2 separate regions of the Homo sapiens genome follow, and region 2 is linked to region 1. The links come from fine-mapping of genetic effects on gene expression. A gene starts in region 1. The other region holds a variant in brackets. All regions are shown on one strand. Distances are between the middles of the regions.

The links.
Region 2: its variant is fine-mapped to the expression of AP3M1 in whole blood (TOPMed, PIP 0.91).

Annotation. Positions count from the first base shown.
Region 1 is chr10:74,141,967-74,153,850 of GRCh38, forward strand. AP3M1 (adaptor related protein complex 3 subunit mu 1) reads right to left here and starts at 8,862. Exons shown (of 9, transcript NM_012095.6): 1 at 8,789-8,862. ADK (adenosine kinase) reads left to right here and starts at 9,255. Exons shown (of 11, transcript NM_006721.4): 1 at 9,255-9,377. The coding sequence starts at 9,313. RefSeq lists enhancers at 8,786-9,015, 9,426-9,605.
Region 2 is chr10:74,246,923-74,258,346 of GRCh38, forward strand. The region is part of intron 3 of ADK (adenosine kinase); the gene reads left to right. LOC124902456 (a long non-coding RNA gene) reads left to right here. Exons shown (of 2, transcript XR_007062198.1): 2 at 1-7,955. Among named protein-coding and RNA genes, the nearest start is that of ADK, 100 kb to the left of the region's middle. The variant G/A (reference allele first, on the strand shown) is at 6,289.

The sequences.
Region 1 (11,884 bases):
TGCCTCAGCCTCCCAAAGTGCTAGGATTACAGGAGTGAGACACCGCACCTGGCCAATGTTTTATTTCTTGACCTGCATGATGTTTACAAGCTGTGTTCCTTCTATGATAACTCATTAGGCTTTACATTGTGATTTGCATACTTTCTGAGTGTTAGTTATGCTTCCTATAAGAAGTTTATTGTCCCTGCAATATGGGGGACAATGGAAAAATGTCTAATTATCTTACCTTGTTCCTATCTTTTACGTGTATAAGCACCAGTATCAGGTGTTTAGTCTAGTGGCTCAATCATTCCAAGTAATAGTACTATAGTCTAAGAAGAAAGAATTTAAGACCTATGAATACAGTTTCTATGAATGAAGATAAATTCCAAAGAGGAAAGGAAGACTTTCCAGAATTGATTCATTTGATTCTGTTGACAGAAAACAACATCAACCCTTTCTTTTATGAAAGCGGCTGACATTTAAAGAATATGTGGTGATGATCTCCTCTTCCCATTCGACACATGTTCAGTAGTTATCAATAATACTAGTTACTAAGATATGTTTTAGTAATTATTGTATTAATAAAGTATGAATACTGTTAACAGTTTAGGGTTCCTGTTTAATTAGAACCAAAAAATTTCTTTGTTTAAAGCCCTCTGTTTAGCCAAGAAATCAACTTGAGTTATTAGCAATAAACTCTGACACCTCAGGGTTGGAACCTGCCAAATTTTTCTACTTTATCTAGTCAGATGCTTTGCTTAGTAGGCTTGCTTTGTGTCTTATATTTCTGTCTGGGTATTAATATAAGTGCCATTAGAATACTTAGACTTGCTATATAGAACCTGCTGATTTTAACTATAATCTTTAGCTGATAAACTTTTCATTTTCATTTTTTAAATGAAACAGGAATATCCAACCATAAGATCTGCAACTAAATTTTTATTATTACACCTTTTTCTTGGAAGAAAATCAGCATCTGAAATATATAATGTATGACTTCAAGTGGAGCACTGTAATCCACAAGCAGACTCAGATTTGGGCACTTCAGGTGAGTCACATATGGAACACAGCATTCTTTGCAAAAATTAATCTTTTGGCCCCATTCAATGTGGTTATTTTTGGCCAGGCACAGTGGCTCACGCCTGTAATCCCAGCACTTTGGGAGGCCAAGACTGGTGGATTACCTGAGGTCAGGAGTTCAAGGCCATCCTGGCCAGCATGGCAAAACCCTGTCTCTACTAAAAATACAAAAATTAGCCGGGCATGGTGGCGTGCGCCTGTAATCCCAGCTACTTGGGAACAAAGCTTGTTTGTTTGTTTGAGCAGAGTCTCCCACTGTCACCCAGGCTGGAGTGCAGTGGTGTGATCTCTGCTGACTGCAACCTCCGTCTCCCATGGGCAAGCAATTCTCGTGCCTCAGCCTCCTCAGTAGCTGGGATTACAGGTGTGCACCACCATGCCCAGCTAGTTTTTCTGTTTTTAGTAGAAATGGGGTTTCACCATGTTGGCCTCAAGTGATCCGCCTGCCTTCGCCTCCCAAAGTGAAGCTACTGTACTCAGTCCCCATTCAAAGTGTTTTATTCATTAAAGATAATGAATAATAAATGAATTAATACTATCTAAAATGTATTGAGTACTTATTATGGGCCAGACACTATGCTAGACACTTTATCTCATCTTATTTTCACAATGCTACACCATAAATACTACTATTATCCCCATTTTACAGATAAGACAATGTCATCTCAGAAAAGTTAGGTCAATTACCTAAGATCACGCAGTAAGCTAGGATTCAAACCTAAATCCAGCTGAATTCTGAGCTCCTGCTCTTATCTGCCTTGTAGAGACTAATTATTAGGAACACGTTCTAATACAGCACTGTCCAACAGGGCTTTCTGCAATGATGGAAATGTCCTTTATCTGTGCTAATATGGTAGCCACTACACCCATGGCTATTGAGCACTTGAAATGTGGCTAATGTACCCAATACTGAAGTTTTAATTTTTTTGAAATTTTAATTAATTTTTTTTTGAGACGGAGTCTTGCTCTGTCTCCCAGACAGGAGCGCAATGGCGTGATCTCTGCTCACTGCAAGCTCCGCCTCCCAGGTTCACACCATTCTCCTGCCTCAGCCTCCCGAGTAGCTGGGACTACAGGAGCCCGCCACCACGCCTGGCTAATTTTTTGTATTTTTAGTAGAGATGGGGTTTCACCATGTTAGCCAGGATGGTCTCGATCTCCGGACCTCATGATCCACCCGCCTCGGCCTCCCAAAGTGCTGGGATTACAGGCGTGAGCCACCATGCCCGGCTTTTTTATTTTTATTTTTTTTTTGAGATAGGGTCTCGCTCTGTTGCCCAGGCTGGAGTGCAGCTGCGTCATCTTGGCTCACTCCAACGCCCACCTCCAGAGCCCAAGCGATCCTCCCACTTCAGTCTCCTGAGTAGCTGGGCTTACAGGCGTGCATCACCACACACAGCTGAGTTTCAAATTTTTGTTTTGTAGAGACAAAGTCTGCCTATATTGCCCAGGCTGATCCTGGACTCCTGGGCTCAAGTGATCTTCCCACCTTGATCTCCCAAAGTTCTGGGATTACAGGTGTGAGCCACCAAGCCTAGCCTGAAGTTTTAATTTTAATTAATTTAAATTTAAATAACCATATATGGTTAGTAGTTAATATATTGAACAGTGCATGAATGTGCTGCTTTAGCTTATGATTTTTTTTTTTTTTTGAGACGGAGTCTTGCTCTATTGCCCAGGCTGGAGTGCAATGGCACGATTTCCTCTTACCACAACCTCCGCCTGCTGGGTTCAAGCGATTCTCCTGCCTCAGCCTCCCGAGTAGCTAGGATTACAGGCATGCGCCACCATGCCCAGCTAATTTTTTGTATTTTTAGTAGAGATGGGGTTTCACCATGTTGGCCAGGCTGGTCTCGAACTCCTGACCTCGTGATCCGCCCGCCTCAGCCTCCCAAAGTGCTGAGATTACAGGCATGAGCCACTGCACCCAGCCTAGCTTATGATTTAAGAGGAGGAGGTAAAAGACATTTCTTGTTTAGTTAGGAGGCAAAAGACATTCTAGTTGTTATGCTGAGGAAGTTTAATAAATTATTTAGAGTGGAAGTTATATTTAAAAGCACCGACACAGGTTATCTAAAATCATTCATCCTATCGAAAATATAGTTCACAAGGATTTATAGTGCTCCTTTGCCACAATACACTCTGAAAGAGTTGCTTGTTTTGAAAGTAAGTGATTTTGTAGTTACTTTATTTTAGGGCCAGATCTCTACTCATCCTCTTAAGCTGGTGAAAAATTCTTTCCAGGAAAGTTTCCACCGAAGTTGTTTTTATTGGCAGTAGTTCAGGTCTCAGAATACAGAAAGTTAAACCAGCCTCCTAGATTTATTGTTGTTATCCTTAGTGCTGAGATGAAAGCATAACACTTGTAAGTTCTCGACTGTGCTTAGCTTTAAAACCCATCTTAACCTTCTATAATAGGAAAAGAGAGCTTACTTCTTCTATCCATATTATGACCAAGGTCTAATGCATATAACAATTAAATAATACCATGTTGCAGTGTAAATTAGCCTGTTTCTTTATTTATCGTCCTTTTGGTAGCTGCAGTTATTTTTTTAATTATTATTTTCATAAACTTTCTGAGAAAACTACACACTCATTATTACCACAACCATCTTTTTGTTCCTAGTGGCTTTTGAGTCATAAAACAGAATTCTCCCAGCTTATTTAAAAGCCACTAGAAGAAACTGTGTTCAGAGGCAGACCCACCAGAGCTTTGACTGCAGCTTAAATACATCATAAATCCTTTTTACTAAACATTTTATAATCATCCTGGGTAATTCACAAGCAATGCATTTACAATAGTCAAAATATTCTTGGAAGACAGTGTCTAAAAACAAAAATGTATTCCTTCTATATATAATATGATGGAGGCACAGAAGGGCCTATACTGAACTTGAGAGAATGAGACCAGAAAAGCATCTACTCTTCTGATTCTCAGCCAATATCTTGACCACATATTCATTCAACACAGAGTTTTGAGGCACTGGGTATATAAGAACAAACAAAATTAGAGTTCCTATACTCACAGCATTTAGAGATGAGCAGAGAAGACAACTTAATACAGTTAAGATGTAATTCCTACGATGATACAGGAAATATAGTGTGCTGTGGGAATCTACAAGGCTTAGAGGTGAGAGAGAACACAAGACAAATAAATCCAGTATAAATTTAGCAAATATGGAAGGTGGAGGGAAGAGGGGAGATGAAACTGGACAAGGAGGTAAGCAGAGACTGATTGGTTCATGGAGCATGCTAAACTTGTTAAGGAGTTTGGACTTTATTCTTAGTGCAATGTAAAGTCATTTTATAATTTTTTTAATTAATCATGCAATCCGATTTACATTTTTAGAAAGATCATACTAATTACACTGCGGAAACTGGATAATCGGTAACTGAACACTGTGACACCAGTTGGGAGATGAGTGGTGATGGCCTGGTCTAGAGTCTTGACTATGAGGATGGGGTACAGTGAAAAGATAAGAGAAACATTTAGGTTTTGTGCTAAAAAACATTTAGGCTTGGAGGAGGGGGTGTGTGGAGATGAGAGAGATGTGTCACTTGGCCTGGTCCTGTGTAATTTGACCAATTCTGGATACATCTGACCCAAATAAATATATTCAAAAAACTATTATATATACCCTTCTGGTGCTTTAGAGAAGCCAGATTGGAATCAGAATTGTAAGTAATCAGGATTTTTTGTTAATGGGAATTAATCAAAAGGAGAATTGAAACAAAAGAAAGAATGTGCATAGTATGAAGAGAGCTTATGGCAGGAACTCCAACATTTGAGTAGGAGGTGGGTCAAGGAAGTGGACCTAAAGAATGACCAAGATGTGACTGAAGAGTCCTAAGAAAAAAAAAAAAACAGGGTGGTTTTTAGTAACTATAGCTTATTAGTGTATTTCCAGAAGAATGGAGTGGTAAATACTGTTACATGGCACAAAGAGGTTAAGCTACGAGAATTGAAAATGTCAGCTGGGCGTGGTGCTCACACCTATAATCCCAGCACTTTGGGAGGCCAAAGTGGGAGTATCACCTGAGCTCGGGAGTTCGAGACCAGCCTGGCCAACATGGTGAAATCCCATCTCCACTAAAAATACCAACAAATTAGCTGGGTGTGGTGGTGGGTGCCTGTAATCCCGGCTGCTCTGGAGGCTGAGGCAGGAGAATCGCTTGAACCCGGGAGGTGGAGGCTGCAGTGAGCCGAGATGGCGCCACTGCACTCTAGCCTGGATGACAGAGCGAGACTCCATCTCAACAACAACAAAAAAGAATTGAAAATGTCTGTTGATTTAAGAGTGTTTTTTAAACTTTCTTTTCCTTAATGCCTGCTAAGGAGCCCTTTTAGACTCCATCTTCTCACCACCCTGCCAATCAAATTCCTCACCCATAAAACTTTTTATTATTCTTTCTTTTTCAACTGTAAATTGACAAATTATAGTTGTATATATTTAGGGGTACCAGATGTTATGATTTATGAAATGTGGAATAATTAAATGAAGCTAATTAATATCACCATAAAATTTTAATACCACAGAATATTCTCTGTTTATGTATTGTATTTGTGCTTTACACATAAAAAGAGTATTATATTTTTTTCACCTCACAAGAAGCAGTTTTTATCTGCTTTGAGAATGCATGATTTAACACACAGAGGACACTGGTGATCTTGGTAAAGGTAGTTTTGGTGGGCTGGGTGCGGTGGCTCACACCTGTAATCCCAGCACTTTGGGAGGCTGAGGCGGGCAGATCACGAGGTCAGGAGTTCGAGACCAGCCTGGCCAACATGGCGAAACCCTGTCTCTACTAAAAATACAAAAGTTAGCTGGGCATGGTGGTAGGCGCCTGTAATCCCAGCTACTCGGGAGGCTGAGGCGGAAGAATCACTTGAACTCTGGAGGCGGAGGTTGCAGTGAGCCGAGATTGCCATTGCACTCCAGCCTGGGCGACAAGAGCAAGACTCCATCTCAGAAAAAAAAAATAGTTTTGGTGGTAGTTCAGTGGAATGCTAGAAATAAGACATTGCAGTGGGCTGGGAAATAAATAGCAAGAAGTGTAAAAAAATAGAGATATGTAGAGTAGATTCAAGAAGTCTAGCTGTGAAGAGGATGAAAAGACAGGAAAATAAATGCAGCAGTTCATAAAGTGAAGGAAGAATACATTCAAATGCTGAAGGAAAGGTGTGAATAGAGGGGGAAAAGCTGACATAGGAGAGAGGGAAAAACGGAAAGAGGACCCTGACATAGCAGGAGAGGATGCTACTGAGAGACTAGGTCAAAGGGTTTGCCTTCTCTAAGGAGAAGGAACACTTTCTACTCTTCAGATTGAAGGGAAGGTTTGTATACTTGACTGCAGGCAGATGATGGCTCTCCTTCTCTGTGTAATGGGAGAGAGGTCATTTCCAAAGGGAGAGAGAAGTCCTCTTCTCTGTAAATACCATGTGCTACTCATGAATTGACACAGTACTGAGCTACTTAAAAATATTTAAATCTGCAAAGAACTCCCATAGCGTATGTGTATATGTATTTTTTTTTAAGAGATAGGGTCTTGTTTTGTTGCCCAGGCTGAAGTGCAGTGGACCAATCATAGCTCACTGTAACTTTGAACTCCTGGGCTCAAGTGATCCTTCTGCCTCATTCTGCCTCTACCTCCTGAGTAGCTAGGACTACAACCACATGCCACAAAGCCTGGCTAATGTTTAAATTTTTTGTAGAGATGGAGTCTCGCTATGTTGCCCAGGCTGATTTCCAGCTCCTGGCCTCAAGTGATTTTCCCGCCTCACCCACCCAAAGTGCTAGGATTACAGGCGTGAGCCACCGCACTCCATCTGCCCATAGTATATTGGTTTGTTTTTTTTTTTTTTGAGACGGAGTCTTACTCTATTGCCAGGCTGGAGTGCAGTGGCGCAATCTCAGCTTACCACAACCTCCGCTTCCTGGGTTCAAGCGATTCTCCTGCCTCAACCTCCCGAGTAGCTGGGACTACAGGCACGTGCCACCACGCCCAGATAATTTTTATATTTTTAGTAGTGACGGGGTTTCTCCATATTTGCCAGGATGGTCTCGATCTCTTGACCTCGTGATCCACCCACCTCAGCCTCTCAAAGTGCTGGGATTACAGGCATGAGCCCTACCGTGCCTGGCCGTATATTATATTAAATGGTTAGAAATAAAAATCATAAGATTAAGTAAGAAAATATAATCTTGTTGCAAAGAGAGCTTTCCTAAAGATACGTAAGGTTTTTTTTTTTTTTTTTTTTTTTTTTTTTTTTTTTTTTTCGAGGCAGAGTCTCGCTCTGTCGCTCAGGGTGGAGTGCAGTGGTGAGGTCTCAGCTTACTGCAACTTCCGCCTCCCGGGTTCAAGGGATTCTCCTGCCTCAGCCTACCAAGTAGCTGGGACTACAGGCGTGTGCCACCACACCTGGCTAATTTTTGTATTTTTAGTAGAGACAGGGTTTCACTATGTTGGCCAGGTTGGTCTCGAACTCCTGACTTTGTGATCCGCCCGCTTCAGCCTGCCAAAGTGCTGAGATTACAGGCGTGAGCCACCGCGCCTGGCCAAGATTCGTAAATTAAGATAATTCTTCATTAACCTCATTCACTTCACTTCTCCTATAGTGTCAATTGAAAGTGTCCCTCTGTCTTTCCCAAATTAATCCTTTCACTTGTAACTTGATCCCATTCCTTTCCTTCTCTTCTGGGAGACAAGACTTTTTCTTGAATCTTCAAATAGTTGCTTGCTTCCTGCCCCCAAATAGATATCTTGTATTCTTTAAAACAAACCCCAAACTTTCCCCCACCTTGCCACTCTCAATAATCTTGCTTCATGCCCCAAATGATGAAGGATTGGTCTACACTTGCAGTCTTTCCTCAGTTACTATTAAAGCATCTCTCTCAAACAGCTCAATGACTTTCTAATTATAAAATCCAACGACCTATTCTGATTTCAGCTTCCTCCTCTGACCATTGCAGCATTTTATGTCATTGATAACTTTCTCCTAAACAAAAATACTTCTTACCCTTTTATATGAAACTTCATCTGTTTTGGGTCTCACCTTGAAAGTCTTTCGGGCTTAATTCTCATAATTTTTTTTAAAGTCTTTCTACAATCTCCATGTAAACCACTGTTTCAAATTCGATAAAACTCAAACTCCATAAAATACCTCCTCCTGTCACTGGCACCATCTTCTTAATCACACATAAGGCTGTAAGTTTCAGGTTCAAACAAATCTACCAAATACAAACAGCCACATCGCCCGTCACTCTTCCACACTCACTGCCACCTGCTCAGCTTAGAACCCCGTTACCTCTCTCCTGAAGAACTGCAACACCCTTCTCACTGCATTCCTCACCCCAGGCTCTTCCAGGCACCACCCGCTAACAGGACGTCTGCTCAGGTCCGTTTGGGGTTTTGTCCTCCAAAGCAGAAACCTGGGACTGAGATTCCTGCCGTCTGTACTCCAGCTCACTATAGAGGGGGAACCCAGTAAGCTTGACCTCCGGGGCTCAGGCGCCTGAGAACACTGGGCTGCAGGTGGACCGCTCCCTTCTGGCCTTGCTGGCGAGAAAGCCCGGAAGGCCGGGAGTGGGGGGGAAGCGAGGCCCGGGCCAACAGCACCAAAGACGCTCCTAGAGCCCAGATCGGAGTCGGGGGCCCCAGCTATTCAGCCTACTCCCGGGTTTTGGAGCTGTCCCCAGTCCACAGATTTCCCGCCCCTCACACTCACCCCAACACCTGTGCCAGTCAGTGATTCGGCGCCGGATCCTCTCCTACCGAAGCTGGAGAAGCCGAGAAGGCCGCGAGGACCCGCAGCTGGAGTGCCCAGGAAATTGCCTGATTAACAGCTTCAAAGACACCGACTCTGTCTACCGTATTAGAAATTTTAAATATGCAGGAAGACCGTAAATGAGAGGAAAGACGTCTCTTGAGGCTTAGTATCTAAATCTTCTACATAATCCAGGGCCTAGAAAAATGGTGGGTTTCTCTCCATCTAGATTCAGGCGGTCATCTGCTGCCTAACGCAGTCTGGGGTCCCTCATGGTAGGGGAGGCGGGGTCAGGAATGGGCGGGGCATTCGCTGTTGGTGCCGACGGATAGAGCCAATGATTGTGGATGACAGCGGCACAGAATGGGCGGAGTCTGGAGGGGCGGGATTTGGAGAAGAGAAAGCGGTGATGCGAAGAGGGGGCGGGACCAGAGAGTGGATGGCAGAGGTGGGCTGTAGAGCCAAAGTGGGGTGGGAGCGCGAAGATGGCAGCTGCTGAGGAGGAGCCGAAGCCCAAAAAGCTGAAGGTGGAGGCGCCGCAAGCGCTGAGGTGAGCGCTGCCGGACTTGGGGAGGAGGGTGACGGCGCTGCAAGCAAGCCAGGGCCCACGTGGGGTTGCACGGCCCCGACGCTGGGTGGTGTCTCTCACTGCCAGCTTGGGGCCAACACGCAGGACCTCCCCCAGCTGCCCGCTTGGCCGCGACCCCTTGCCAGACGTTCTCTCCGTTTGGCTGAGTCCCCGCCTGTCTGGTGCAGCTCCGGCTCCAGCAGCCCTTCGCCAGTCGTGGCCCGCAGGGGGACCGAGCTGGCTGACCGCGCCACCTGCGAGCAAGCCCAGGCTGGGCTGGTGCGACCCCGGAGGGTCGGACCGGAGCAGCGTCTGTAGGCGGCCGCCTTCTCTTCCCGGGGGATGGCGGGAAAGAGGCTCGGCAACTGCTGTACACTGGGGCAAAGTCAGAATTCTTGGGGATTTTTCAGAGTGTTGCGGAAGGGCACGTTGACCTTCCTTTTCGTGCACATTCTGAAAGCCCGTACCTTTGAGGACCCTCTACCAGGGACCCAGACCCCTCCGATGCTTTGCAGGGGCAGCATTTGGATGAATGGATAGGAAAGGTTGATTTCTCTTTTTTATTTACACTTTTTGGCAGCAACGGGGACAGTGCTGCCCCTAACACCTGCCTCACATGTGATTGATGTTGCAACTTTTACTTATGAAGAGTCATTTGTTAAAATATCCCTTCCTAATAAGTATAAAGTGAAGCAGGCAGTCTTTGATGATTTGGAAATGTTCGCTGAAAGGCAGCGATTTTTTTTTCCATCTTAAAATAGACATATCAAACTGATTTAAAACTATTAGGACACTCCTGATTAAACAGGACATATCCCATTTCTTCCAGTATCACTCTTCTTCACCTCCAAAGGAAGGAATCACTCACAATTGAAAAGAAAAGGACACTTAGGGGCCTGGTGGTGTGTTCATGCTGCTTTGAATGGAGGGTGAACAAATCCTTGCCAGTTCCTTTAATGTATTCCTACTACCCTCAAAGGGTTAGTGTGCCTACCTTATACCAAGAACATAAACTTTAAAATAAAAACCCTCAGGATATTCTATTTTTATTTTAAATATTCCAACTATATGCAGAATAAAAAGCAACGGCTTTTGAATCAGACCTACCTGAGTTCAAGGCATGTGCTTTCCCTACTCTGCCCTTTATTAGAGTATTTCCTTATAAGGCACCTCCTTCGCCAAACTGGAAGACAGATGCAACTTTTCCCTACCATCCTACTGAACATATAACCCTTAGATTTCCTTAGATTTTTCCTTAATAAAAATTATTATATATAATGCTGATCCATTTTCACTGTGTTTTCCTATTTATTATCTTGTTGGACAGTTCTGTGATCAAAGGAAGGCAAGAATTATGCCTATTTTACAATTGAAGATATTGAAGCCCAAATAAAACAATTAGTACAGGAACAGAAATAGGAACTAGCTGAGCATGTTTTCTTATACCTGCAGTCCTGGTGCTTTGTGAGGCTGTGGTGAGAGCATTCCTTAGGCAACTAAAATTCACTTTATACAATATGAATTTAGTGCCACCTGTAGACATGAAGTTAAAAGATTAGACACTTGAGTACTGGGACAAATCTCTAATTTTGTGGGGAGACATTTTAGGATCGGCTATTATTACTTTTATTATATTAATTTGCTTTCAGACTCAAAGTGTGATAATGCATTGAGTATTTACACTGAATTTATGATGACTTGCTTGACAGGGGATTGCTACTGGTTTTGGTTAAGGAGAATGGATTATAAAGACTTTGCATAATTTAATGTGCAGCATCAGTGGGAACAAATAATGAGATATATTTGTAGATGTCAGGAAAAATATTTAGATTTAGGGATTTGTGAGAATTTGGTCAGCTCTGGGATAATAATTCTCCACCAGGGGAAATTTTGCCCTCCAGGGGACATTTGGCGTGGTCTAGAAAGATATTTTTGGTAGGGAGAGCTATTGGCACCTAGTGGATGGAATTCAGGGGTGCTGCTAAACATGCTACATAGGACAACCCCCACAACAAAGAATTATCTGGCCAAATACGTCAACGGTGTTGAGGTTGAGAAATCTGTTCTAGAGGGAGCATCTGACAAGACTAGTCTGCCTTTCTCAAATATCTATTATTTTTCTAGGCTCGGTTGCTTTTCAGCATATAACAGTTGCTTATAAAGAAAGAATCAGGCTCTGACATGTTTTCACGTGGGATTAGGGGAAAGAAGGGAACGTTAATTGAGTGCTAGACATTATACTATGTGCTCTATATATGTTATCTCTTTTAACCCTCCCAGTGACCTATGAGGTAGGAGCAATGATTCCTGTGTTACAGACGAGCTATTTTGTGATGAAAGAAGTGGAGAAACATTTTTGGGAACTGCTCCCTAGATGAAGGTGTTCCATGATGATCACTTATATTTAAGACAACTTAGTTTTCTTTTCTCTCCTTTGGAAATCTCATCCAAGTTCATTTCTTTAGCGATCGCCTCTTAAGAGGCTACAG
Region 2 (11,424 bases), 100 kb after region 1:
TTTAATGAATTTATTCTTAAAATAATAAATATTTAAAAAAGTTATATTTTAACTTCTAATATGATAACTAGGGCTAGATATTAAAGCTCCTTGAATTACTCGATACTCTTTTTAAAGTGTAAAGTGGTCCTGAGATGAAAGTGTCTGAGAACTTATGATCCTAATTCTTTATCCTCATTTCATAGATGAGAATACTATGAGCCCAGAGAGGTTAGTTTAGTTAAGTACACTCATCCAGTTTTTGGCTTAGCTGATTCTTGGATCACTGACATCTGGCTTTTTTTGATTTTTTTTTTTTTAAGTTTTTTTTTTTTTTTTTTTTTTTTGAGACAGAGTCTTGCTGTGTCAGCTAGGCTCGGGGGCTGGAGTGCAGTGGTGCAGTCATGGCTCACTGCAGCCTTCACTGCCTGGGCTCAAGTGATCCTCCCACCTCAGCCTCCTGAGTACCTGGGACTACAGGCACGTGCCACCATGCCTGGCTAATTTTTGTGTTTTTTGTAGAGAAGGGTATTTTTTGTTGCCCAGGCTGGTCTCAAACTCTTGGGCTTAAGTGATCAGCTAGCCTTGACCTCCCAAAATGTTGGGATGAGCCACCTTGCCTGGCCTGATATATTTTATTAGCAGTTTTGCTGTTTAGATATTCTTCAACCTAATACCAACCATCAGCTCCTTTAACAGTTTCTTCATTTGATATTTTAACTAACTTTATTAAGTACATGAGTAAATTAGGAATATTGACCTACTTTTTCAACAACAATAAAATGGTGTTTTTTTAAACTCAAAAAATGTCTAGAAAAAGGGAATTGATATATGAAACAGTGTAACCTTAGCGTCAGAAAGAATAATGTTGAGGGCAAAGAAATAGGTTCTTGTGTTTTAGAGACTCTTTTACTGTCTTTTTTCCTTTTTTTCCCCCCTTCTTCAACAACAAAACATTGGTTACAAGCTTCCCTGGGCATTTATGGCAGCCCACCTACAGAAGAACAAGTGTTCTGTTTTAAAATTTTAAAAATTTTATCAAGAGGATAATAATTACACATATGCTGCTTTTTTGATGGATATGTATTATTTCTCAGGTTGAGCCTCATGGTGGGGGTGGTAGATTCTAACCCCCTCCTTTTAATTGTTGAATGAATTTAAAACTATGTCATAAAGAAACTGCGTAATTTTAATTCAAAGAAAGATAATTAGGATATACATAATATCCCTCTTCCTTTGAGGGGCTTCCTTCGTGTAGAAGACATGGACTGAGTGATTTTTGCTCAATAAAGGAAAACTTTCTAGTAGTAAAGAAATACAAAAATAGAATCAGCTTGTTTGGAAGTAGTGAGTTCCCTTTCTTATGAGGCATTAAAGCATAGACCAGATTATTGACTGTTAGTAGGAGTACTAGCAAATGAATCAGTAGATGGAGGGTTAATTGGGTTACATGACCTTTCAGATTGCTTTTTTTTTTGAGGTGGAGTCTCGCTTGTCACCAGGCTAGAGTGCAGTGGTGCAATCTCAGCTCACTGCCACCTCCGCCTCCTGGGTTCAAGCGATTCTCATGCCTTTGCCTCCCGAGTAGCTGGGATTACAGGCACGTGCCACCACACCTAATTTTTTGTATTTTTAGTAGAGACGGGGTTTCATCATGTTGGCCAGGGTGGTCTTGATCTACTGACCTCATGATTTGCCTGCCTTGGCCTCCCAAAGTGCTGGGACTACAGGCATGATCCACCGTGCCCAGCCTTCAAATTCTTTTATTAAGTGTTTGAGTATACTTGTTCAAAATAACTTTTTAAACAAGTATAAAAAGGCAGTTGGTTTAGCAGATGTATTCTACTTTTATATCAGCTGCTCTGTTAACCTAAAGATTTTATGGATCTGTGGTCTCACCATGATCACTGACATCAATTCTCCTTGAAGGAGGATGAGTTTTGTTTGTTCATTTTATTGCAAACCATTTGAAGAGATGATAGATTGGTAGCAGAAATTTGGCAGAGAAAAGGATGATAAACATTAGAAAGGAGGATAAAGCCCACTGGAAGACATAAATGAATTGATGATATTTTGGTGTATATTTTCTCATTGCTTTATGATTATAAATATTTTCTGCTGCTTTTTGCCACTATCTATTTTTCATGTCTTCCAATAAAGTATTCCATGGCCAAAATTTGTGTGAAATTCTCTTCGGTTGTTGCTGGTTTTACAAGTTATAGGGTTCTTTGGAATATAATTACTGAAATGATGACTACACTAAAACATATTTCTTCTTAATTTAACAAAGTATTTAGTGGGAGGAAGGCTCTAGCTTTTCTTATTTTCTTTAATGTTTTTTAGGCATGCTAGAGGAAAATAGTGTTCTTACTATTAGTTTTGAACATTTTTTATGACTATAGAGTTGAAAGCCCAAAACACTAGAAGTAAATGGATCATTGCAAAATATTTGTTTTGTTTTCATTTGTGAGTGGGGCATTCGTGTGTCACTGTGTCTATGCTTCTATTTTTCTCTGTATATAGTTTATATCCTTAAGACTTTCAGAAAGAAATTGAGATGTTATGTTGTTTTATTGTATATGCATGTACATGCATACACACACACACACACACACACACACACACAGTTTTATTTGTTCATCATATATTTAAGGCCTGACATAGGTCTTACAAAGTTCAATTACTATAGGGCTTAAGTAGGAAATGAATGGTAAAATGAGCCAATTTGAAGCAATAAATACTGATTGATAGATTATCACCTTCTTCCAAATAAGATATGTGGCATCGTAGAATCTTGCTCTTAGATACACAGATATGTGTGATGTTTAAATAGTTGAGAAATTCAACCAGAAATGAATGAAAGGGTTTTCCCGTTATCCTGTCATACGCAAATTACCAGATCATTCAGTTCTTCAATTTATCAATTCATGTATTTATTCATTTAACTAATATTTGTTAGTTTTATACTATGTGTAAAGCCCTATTTTAGACACTGAATACAGTGCCAGACAGTAATTTTCCTGCACTCATAGTTTATACTCTAATAGAGAATGTAGAATTGAGCTTTAAATTTCCTATTCAATAAGTATTTTTAGTAATATGTGAAGTACAAGAGCTTCTGAAGACTTATTGCGCCACTCTCTCCCTATTCATCCATTTACCAGTTGTTACTGAATGCTTACTCTATGTACTAGAAATGCAGAGATGAGTAAGATACAACCTGGCCCTGAAAAAAATTCAGTCTATTTGGAGTTATAGACAGGCAGTAACTAGCTATTATATAGTGTGATGATGGCTATGATATAATTACAAATAATATTCTGCAAGAACAGTAATTTTCTCTAGCTGTGAGGTATGCAAGAAGCTATCATAGAGAACTAATATTTGAGGATGAGTAGAAATAGTCGGGTATAGGGAGATCAAAGGAGAAGTTACTCCTATTCCCCAAATAGAGGGTTCTTCATGAACACACAGAAGTAGGCAAGGTCTGTTTGGAGAATGGTGAGATATTGTGTAGTTTGGGTAAAACACTGGGTATGTCATGGAGGGAGAGGTAAAAGAAGAAGCTACAACGTAGGTTCAGGCCGAATTGTGAAAAGTTTTATATACAAGGTTAAAGTTGGCTTTTTATTTTACAGTTAGTTGGGGACCTGTGGAAGATTTTTCAGCAGGCAAACATACTTAGTCTGCAGTTTACAAAGATAGTTGATAGAATACAGGATGAAGTAGTGAGAAGTTGAGGCTATGGAAAGGCAGGTATACCAGTTTGAAAACTTCATAATAGATATGAATGAAATAATGAGGGTCTCTTATAGGGTAGTAGTAGTAGTGACTTTAGAACACAGGGATGGATTAAAAATCAAATTCAGAGGTATTTTTGTTTTGCTTCATTTTTTTGAGACAGGGTCTTGCTCTGTCACCCATGCTGGAGTGCAGTGACATGATCACAGCTCACTGCAGCTAGGGCTACAGATGTGTGCCACCATGGCTGGCCAATTTTTTATTTTTATTTTTATTTTTGGTAGAGACAAGGTCTCATTATGTTGCCCAGGCTGGTCTTAAAATCCTGAGCTCAAGCGATTCTTCCATCTCAGTCTCCCAAATTGCTAGGATTACAAGCATGAGCCACCATGCCTGGTCCAGAGTTAGAACTGACAGGATTTAGTGAGTGATCCATATGGAGAGAGGGCGTTGAAAAAGATTTTGAAGTTTTGTGTTTAGTGTCTGCATAATTAAATGCTGGTACTATTAACTTCAAAAGGAAAAGCAATATGGTTGAGGGAAGCAATGAATTTGGTTTTGTAATATTGAGGGCAGGAGTAAACCTAAGGGAATGTTGGAGGCATTTAAATTCTAAGTGGAGGAGATGCCTATTCAAGAGAAAGGAGGAGGAGTAGGGGGAAGAGATAGCTGTTCAGTGTGTCATTAAACCTCTCAAATCCTCAGTTTGTTATTTATCATATATTGGAGGTAGAATCAATAATTTTTCTGGTTTTGAAATAACCTGTGTTTTAGTTATCACAAATTCTAAATTAGTAGTACAAAAATTATAATAATTATAGTTTATATGTTATAGACTGATGATAATATTTATTGATTACTTCCTGTGAAGTTTAGGTAAAATGCTAAGCATTTTGCATTCATCATCCATTTAATTCTCCTAGCAATATGAGTTAAATATTATTACTATCTGGATTTTCAGAAAAGGGAAGATAACTTGACCAAGATTGTTACAGCAAATAAGTGGTGGATGGGTATTCAAACCCAGGACAATCTGACATTAAAACTCAAGCTTTTAACCACTATATTATTTGCCTGTCTTGTAGAACATAAGAGTTGTAATGAATCTAAAACATCATCTAGCCCTTTCCTGTAATCAGATTTATGTCATAGCTAAGGTCTGTAATTAATGTCAAAATTAGCTATCCAATTTACTTAATAAGAAGCTTACTCCACAGCCATTCATTACTGCTGTTTTCCTTGTGGCAGATACTTTTTTTTTTTTTTTTTTTTTTGTCGACTCACCTCTTTACCGTGTGATGTGAGTAAATTCTGTATAGTCTAGGCCACTCATGATTATCCCATTTTTCTTGCTAGTCATTAATTAAGACCTGAACATAGGACTGATATCTGACCAATAACTCATTTGTGGCCAATGAGACATGAGGGGAGGTTTGGTGGAGGGGCTTCTTGGAAAGGTAACACCTCCTCTCCCCTCATTTTTGGATGTTTCTATCTAGATGGGTTCTTGGAATTGTGAGAGCTATCTTGGAATTATTTGGGGCCTAGGTCAGGATAAAACCAAAACACTGGATGGCACAGTGAAAAGATGGTGAGAACTTGGATCCTTAATGATCTTGTTGAACTTCTAAATTACCCATTCCTAAAGCTATTGTGCCTCAGGACTAGGTCTTACATGAAATTAGAGGGAATTTATTAGGCTGTGTGAAACAAGGACTTTTTAAGGCTACTAACAGTTTTTTTCTTTTAAACGATACTTATCACTGAAAGAAACCTAACTGGGATCTGCAGTGTTTATCTTTGTCTGAAGTAAATAGAAAGGCACTGTAGGGCTTGCATTACTGTTGAGACACAATTAAAACAGGAATAGAAGACAATTTTTGTGTCACTGCACCTAATTTAATTGGTGTAGAAGTTGGAGATGATCATGCTCTAGAAAACAGATCTTATATATGTTAAAGGTAGCAAAGTGTCATTGAGGAAATGAGTCTGATTATTCTGACAGTTTCTGTAGGTAAAAGGAATAGAAAGTAAGTGTTCAGATTAGGTTAGGAAATAGAAATGGATTTAGTTTGTAGACAGTTAACCTACGTTTCAGGGTCCTTCCAAGACTCTGGAAGAATCTCAAGCAATGTGTTAACATAATATTTTGGGTGAGGCGGGGTAAGATTTGCAAAAGTTAGGTATTTAATCCATTAAAACTGCTATTCCTTTTCACTTAGACTTTCCCTGTATCATACCCTCATATTGGGTGGCATTAGAGTGGCCTGAGCTAAGGGAAAATTGAGTAGAGGATACATTTAGAGATAGTATATGGTTAGCAGTTGTTTATGTGTCCAGTTATTTTGTAGGCATTACTTCCAGGAATGTTATTACTGTCCACTGTGTCTACTTCCCTGGCCTTGTGATACATAGATGTAGTTTTGCAGGGCAGGTGAGCCCCAAAGTGGGGCTCAGCCCGTGAGGGTTCTTGGCTTTGCCCAGAAAAGAATTCAAGGGCAAGCCAGAGGTAGAAGAAAATAGATTTATTGAACAGGCAGTGTTACAGCTCTGGTGGTGTTATAGCTC[G/A]GTGACTGCTCCTGCAGAGCAGGGCTACCCCGTAGGCAGAGAGTAGCAGTTCAGGGCAGTTATTAATACCCTTTTTTAATAACATGCAGATTAAGGAGTGGTTTATGCAGAAATTTCTAGGGAAGGGATAGTAACTTTTGGGTCATTGGGTCATTGCCATGGAAAGTGGTGGTAACTCCTGGGTGTTCTCATAGCAGTGTTGACATGGCACACTGGTGGGTGTGTCTGATGGAAAGCTTCTTCTGCCTAATCATCTTTCAGCTAGTCCTCAATTTAATTGGGTGTCTGAACCTGTCTCTAGAGTCAAGTCCTGCCTCCTAACTCAGTAGGGGCAAGGGTCTTAGAGCATTATAAATATGTTCTTTGTGGTAGAGGTAGAGGAAGAGAAACATCGTTTAAGTGTTTAGAGTGAGAAACTAGTCTGGAAAATTTTTCTAAATCTTGGAACTTGATTGTGGTTTTCGTAAATTTGATAATATTCCTAAGAATGTATATGACATTATCAGTAATAAGTTATAAAGAAGTTATAAAGCTGATATAAACTCTCTACACTGCCTTTTTTTTTTTTTTTTTTTAAGATGGAGTCTCCTCTGTCACCCAGGCTGGAGTGCAGGGGTGTGATCTCTGCTCACTGCAACCTCTGCCTCCCAGGTTCAGGTGATTCTTTTGCCTCAGCCTCCTGAGCAGCTGAGACTACAGGCACGCACCATCATGCCTAACAAATTTTTGTATTTTTAGTAGAGATGGGGTTTCACCATGTTGGCCGGGCTGGTCACGAACTGCTGACCTCAAGTGATCCGCCCGCCTCAGCCTCCCAAAGTGCTGGGATTACAGGTGTGAGACACCGTGCCTGGCCTACACTGTCAGTACTAAAAATTGATCAAACACAGTAGTAAAAAGATAAAATTATCTTTCTATTCTCTTAATGTTGCAAAATTGTTATATGAAGAGGAAATCAAGAAATGCAGCCAGAAATGTAAGAAAATAAGAGCATTATAGAGATAGATTAGGCAATTAATAAAGATATGCTCTTCTTTTTGAAATTCATGTTTTTGGCATTTGTTAGCCTTTTAAAGTTAGTGTTTAGTTGTAATTTATTTTCTCATTCCAGATATTTACTTCACACCTAATTTTGTATTCCTTTCCTTAAATAGAGTCCCACAAATTGTAAAAAAGGAATTAGCTCACCAAAAACACCAAATGCAGTATTTTTAATATTTACCTTTCAGGTTCGGTTGCTGGATCTAGATATGCCTCTTTTTTTTATTTCCTCATTTTTTCTTCTAAAAAGAAAATTATGTATTTTAATGTCAGATTGCTTTTGATTAAAATGTTTCATATTAAAATTGTATACCTGAAAAATATTATTCAATAACACACTTCAAAAAGTTGACAGTTAAAAAAAAAAGAATAGCCCTTGTTACTTTTCTTATCTAATCACAGAGTTTGTGTAGTGAATGTAAAAAGAAAAAAAAATTGTTACAAGTTTGGAGCAAAGAGCTCTGTGTTTAAAAGGAATCTCCTTCTTTTTTTGTGTGTTTTTCCTTTTGTACCAATGGGGAACCTAAATCTGTTTTAGTTGCACAGACACAATGGACAAATAGTCATTTTGTATTTGCCAAGTGTGATACCTTCCTTTGTTTATTTGCTATTAAACTGTTGAGAGTTTTATGGCTAGTGGATAATCATTGTTCAAACTTTTTAATAACTACAGTGAATTGTGTTAATATAAAATTATGCTGTACAGTATTTTCTTGTTATGTTGATGGTCAAAGTGAACATCAGATATTAAAAATTTAGATGAGTAAAATATTAAACAGCCTATTTTTGTCATGTAACAAAAGACCATGAGATCCATGGAGGAAAAAAGGACAGCTTTATTTTTCTATAGAAAACAATAGTAGGTTGGGGATATGCAGCCTGTGGTGTAAAATGAAAATGAGGTCCTAGTTGGGGGTTGGAGAGTTAGAAATTATAAAGGCAAAAATTGTAGGACAGGGGAGGTGGGGTCAAGGAAGTAAGGAATAAAGTCTTGATTAGATGACCTTTAATCCCCAAATCACCAGTGTGTCTTAGTTGGTTGTTTCCAGGTGGTTGGTCAGTTGGCACCAGGTGGTCTTTTGGTGATCATTTGGGGAATTTCCAAATGATCACCAAAAGGAACTGTTCTTTGACTTGGTGGCAGAAAAACAGGTTTTGCAACACTTTTAAGGACACAGGGTATAATTGCTCCCTTACCCTGTCATTGCCTCTTGGTTCTGCTTTTACCTTTGAGCCACAAGGAGTCTATCTTGTCAATTAACTGGGGGCATAATTTGACAGTCCAATATGTATAATGATGACAACAGCTCCACTAACATGAATGCCATTCTTAGAATTTCTCATAGATCCTGGCATTTGGTACATCTGAGTTGAATAAATAAAAGTCTGGGGAATGAATGAAAGAAAAATTAGTTCAATGTCCTATAACTTTAAGTTAATTTATTAGAATTGCCACCAACAAAATTAGCTCTAGCATTTAGATACTAAAAGGAATTTGTTAAGCAAACTTACTTTTGCAGTTATCTCTCCATGGACAGTCAGAACAGGTATTCTTCATTTCTAAAACATACTGCTGTTCTTTAAGACCATTCTTTGGCACTGTGGAACTTTAGTCATTTTCTAGACATTTGTTAGCCACTAAATGTCTCATACCAGGGACTCATATTTGTAAATAATAGTGTCTGCCTTTGAGAAGCTCATAACTGGGTAGTCAACGAACAGTCACAGTGCAGATCTGGAATCAGTGTTGAGGGAGTACAAAATCCTTTGGGTGTTGTAATCAGAGTCAAGAAAAGCTTCACAGTGGCGATAGGCTTAAGCTTAGTTGAAGGAAGAGGAAGCTTTCAAGTGGAGGTGGCAGAGAAAGCATTCTGACATGTGAAAAGGCAGGAAAGCCTGCGTGCAGCATATTTATTAGTTTTGTCTCCCTTGGAGCATTTTGTAAATTTTATTGAGTATTCAGAGTTGACAGAAAGGCAGTCAGGGATCATTTCATGGAGCGCCATGCTGAGAAGATTAGAGGATTTTAAGCAAGTGATGTGGTCAAATTTGCAGTTTTGAAAGAGTACTTAACATTATCCTGGTTATATGTTTAGCAGATTTGGCAAGAACTGATTGTTATGATTTGATAGTCATTTAATACAAAAAGGAACCTGGAATGCTCTTCGTCTTTAGTGAACATTATGTAACCTATCTTCATGGCCTTCTTAGTGAGGTAAACATTTTTTTTTTGAAATTGTAAAGATTTAAACTTTTTGAAGGGTAAACTTTCTCAGATAATTATGCTTAGTTGTGAGCAGAAGTAAAATAATGTTTTTACAGGCCAGAGCATTTAATTACCAGTGCAAGACTGTCCAGACTACTCTTTCCATTTACCATGATAACTGGTAAAATGTGAGATGGTGATTGCTCCATCATCTTGGGTACTGAGATGAAAAGATGTGGGGTGGAGTCCTCAAATGACTTATGATGAACAGCTAGTGTAAGCAAGAAAATGACCTTATTGTTTTAAGCCACTGATATTTTGCAGTTCTTACCTGATAAATGGTACATGAACCTAACGTGTTTTTATTGATGCAACCATATATCAAAACAGTATTTTTGAAGGAATCATTGTAGAAGTACAGACATTTATAGAAAATTTTTTACCTCTCTGATTTAGAGAAATTTTTGAAAGCACAATAACTTAGGTAACATAGTAACATAAAAGTTCTCATAATATGTGTAAACCAAAATGAGTTACTGCAACTAAGAGTCATTTTGAAAGAGACTAAAATTGACTTATCTTTAATTTGTTAAATAAAAGTGTGATATTAAATCCATTACAAAAATGGGTAAAAATTGAAGACAACTGCAATTTTATAGGTTACTGAACTTTATATTTTACATGATATTACAGTCATCCTTCAGTATACATGGGCGGGTGGTTCCAGGACCCAAGTCTACAAATATGTTAAGTCCCACAGTGGGTGCTGTGAAACCTACATAAAGGAAAAGTTGGCTCTCTGTATGCGCAAGTTTCGTATCCTGTGAATTCTGTATTTTCAATCCACATTTGGTTGAAAAATTTCAGCCTGTAGGTGGACTTGCGCAGTTCAAACCCACTTCATTCAAGGGTCAACTGTATTTTATAGTCAGTATTTGCATAATAAGGAAATCTAAATGGTACTTTGATATTCAAAGTTTCATAATAATCTATATGTATGTTTTAAAGTGAGTGTGGTGATATTAATACTTAAATGAAAAATATGAGTTAATAAAGCAATTTATAATTTTATATCAATTGAGCATATTGTTTTTGAAATTTAATTTAGAATAATCATCTATACATAATCTATAGATACTTTAGTCTTTCTATATGACATTCTTATGGTGGTTTATTGATTATCATAACTATGAATAATGAGTAAAAATTATACAACTATACAAGCCAATATATGCTTGAAATTATTATTTATTGATAGTAAATTAGATTTTGACATGAAATGATTTCTGTTTAGGCAATAAATTTAAACTATAGAAAAAAATGCAGTGTAACTTGTACTGTAAATAAACGATTAGCAATGAACATTACAGTGAGAGCTGATAGTTTATGAATTATTCACTGCAAACTTATTGTCTCTGTGTCATTAACATGTAAGATAATGAGCCTAATTACCATGGCTTTAAACTCAGGGGAGTTAGCAATTTATGTGTAAAAGTTTCTGGGCTGTAGTTACCACCCACAAGGGTATTGAGAGAACTGCAGACACTACTTCTGTGTTTTGTTTCAGAAATGTTCTTTTTCCTCACTTGCTTCCTTCTTAATAAATTAGTTTTTATTTATTTTTATAGTGAGAATTATGAGCTTTTCCTCTTGCTTGAATACCTTTTTAAAGGAGTTATGAGAAATATTTAAGTATTTTTTTAGTGTAGTTTAGTGTTGTAAGTAGACAAAATATTATTAGATGTATTCTTTTATTTGCTTACATAAGTTGGCATCACTTACTATAGTAAATGACCACTAATAGTGTAATTTCTTGGAAAATCTAGCCTAAAAGGTCAATATTAATAATTGGTTTTCTCCTCTAAAAGGATTTGTACTAAGATGATTTA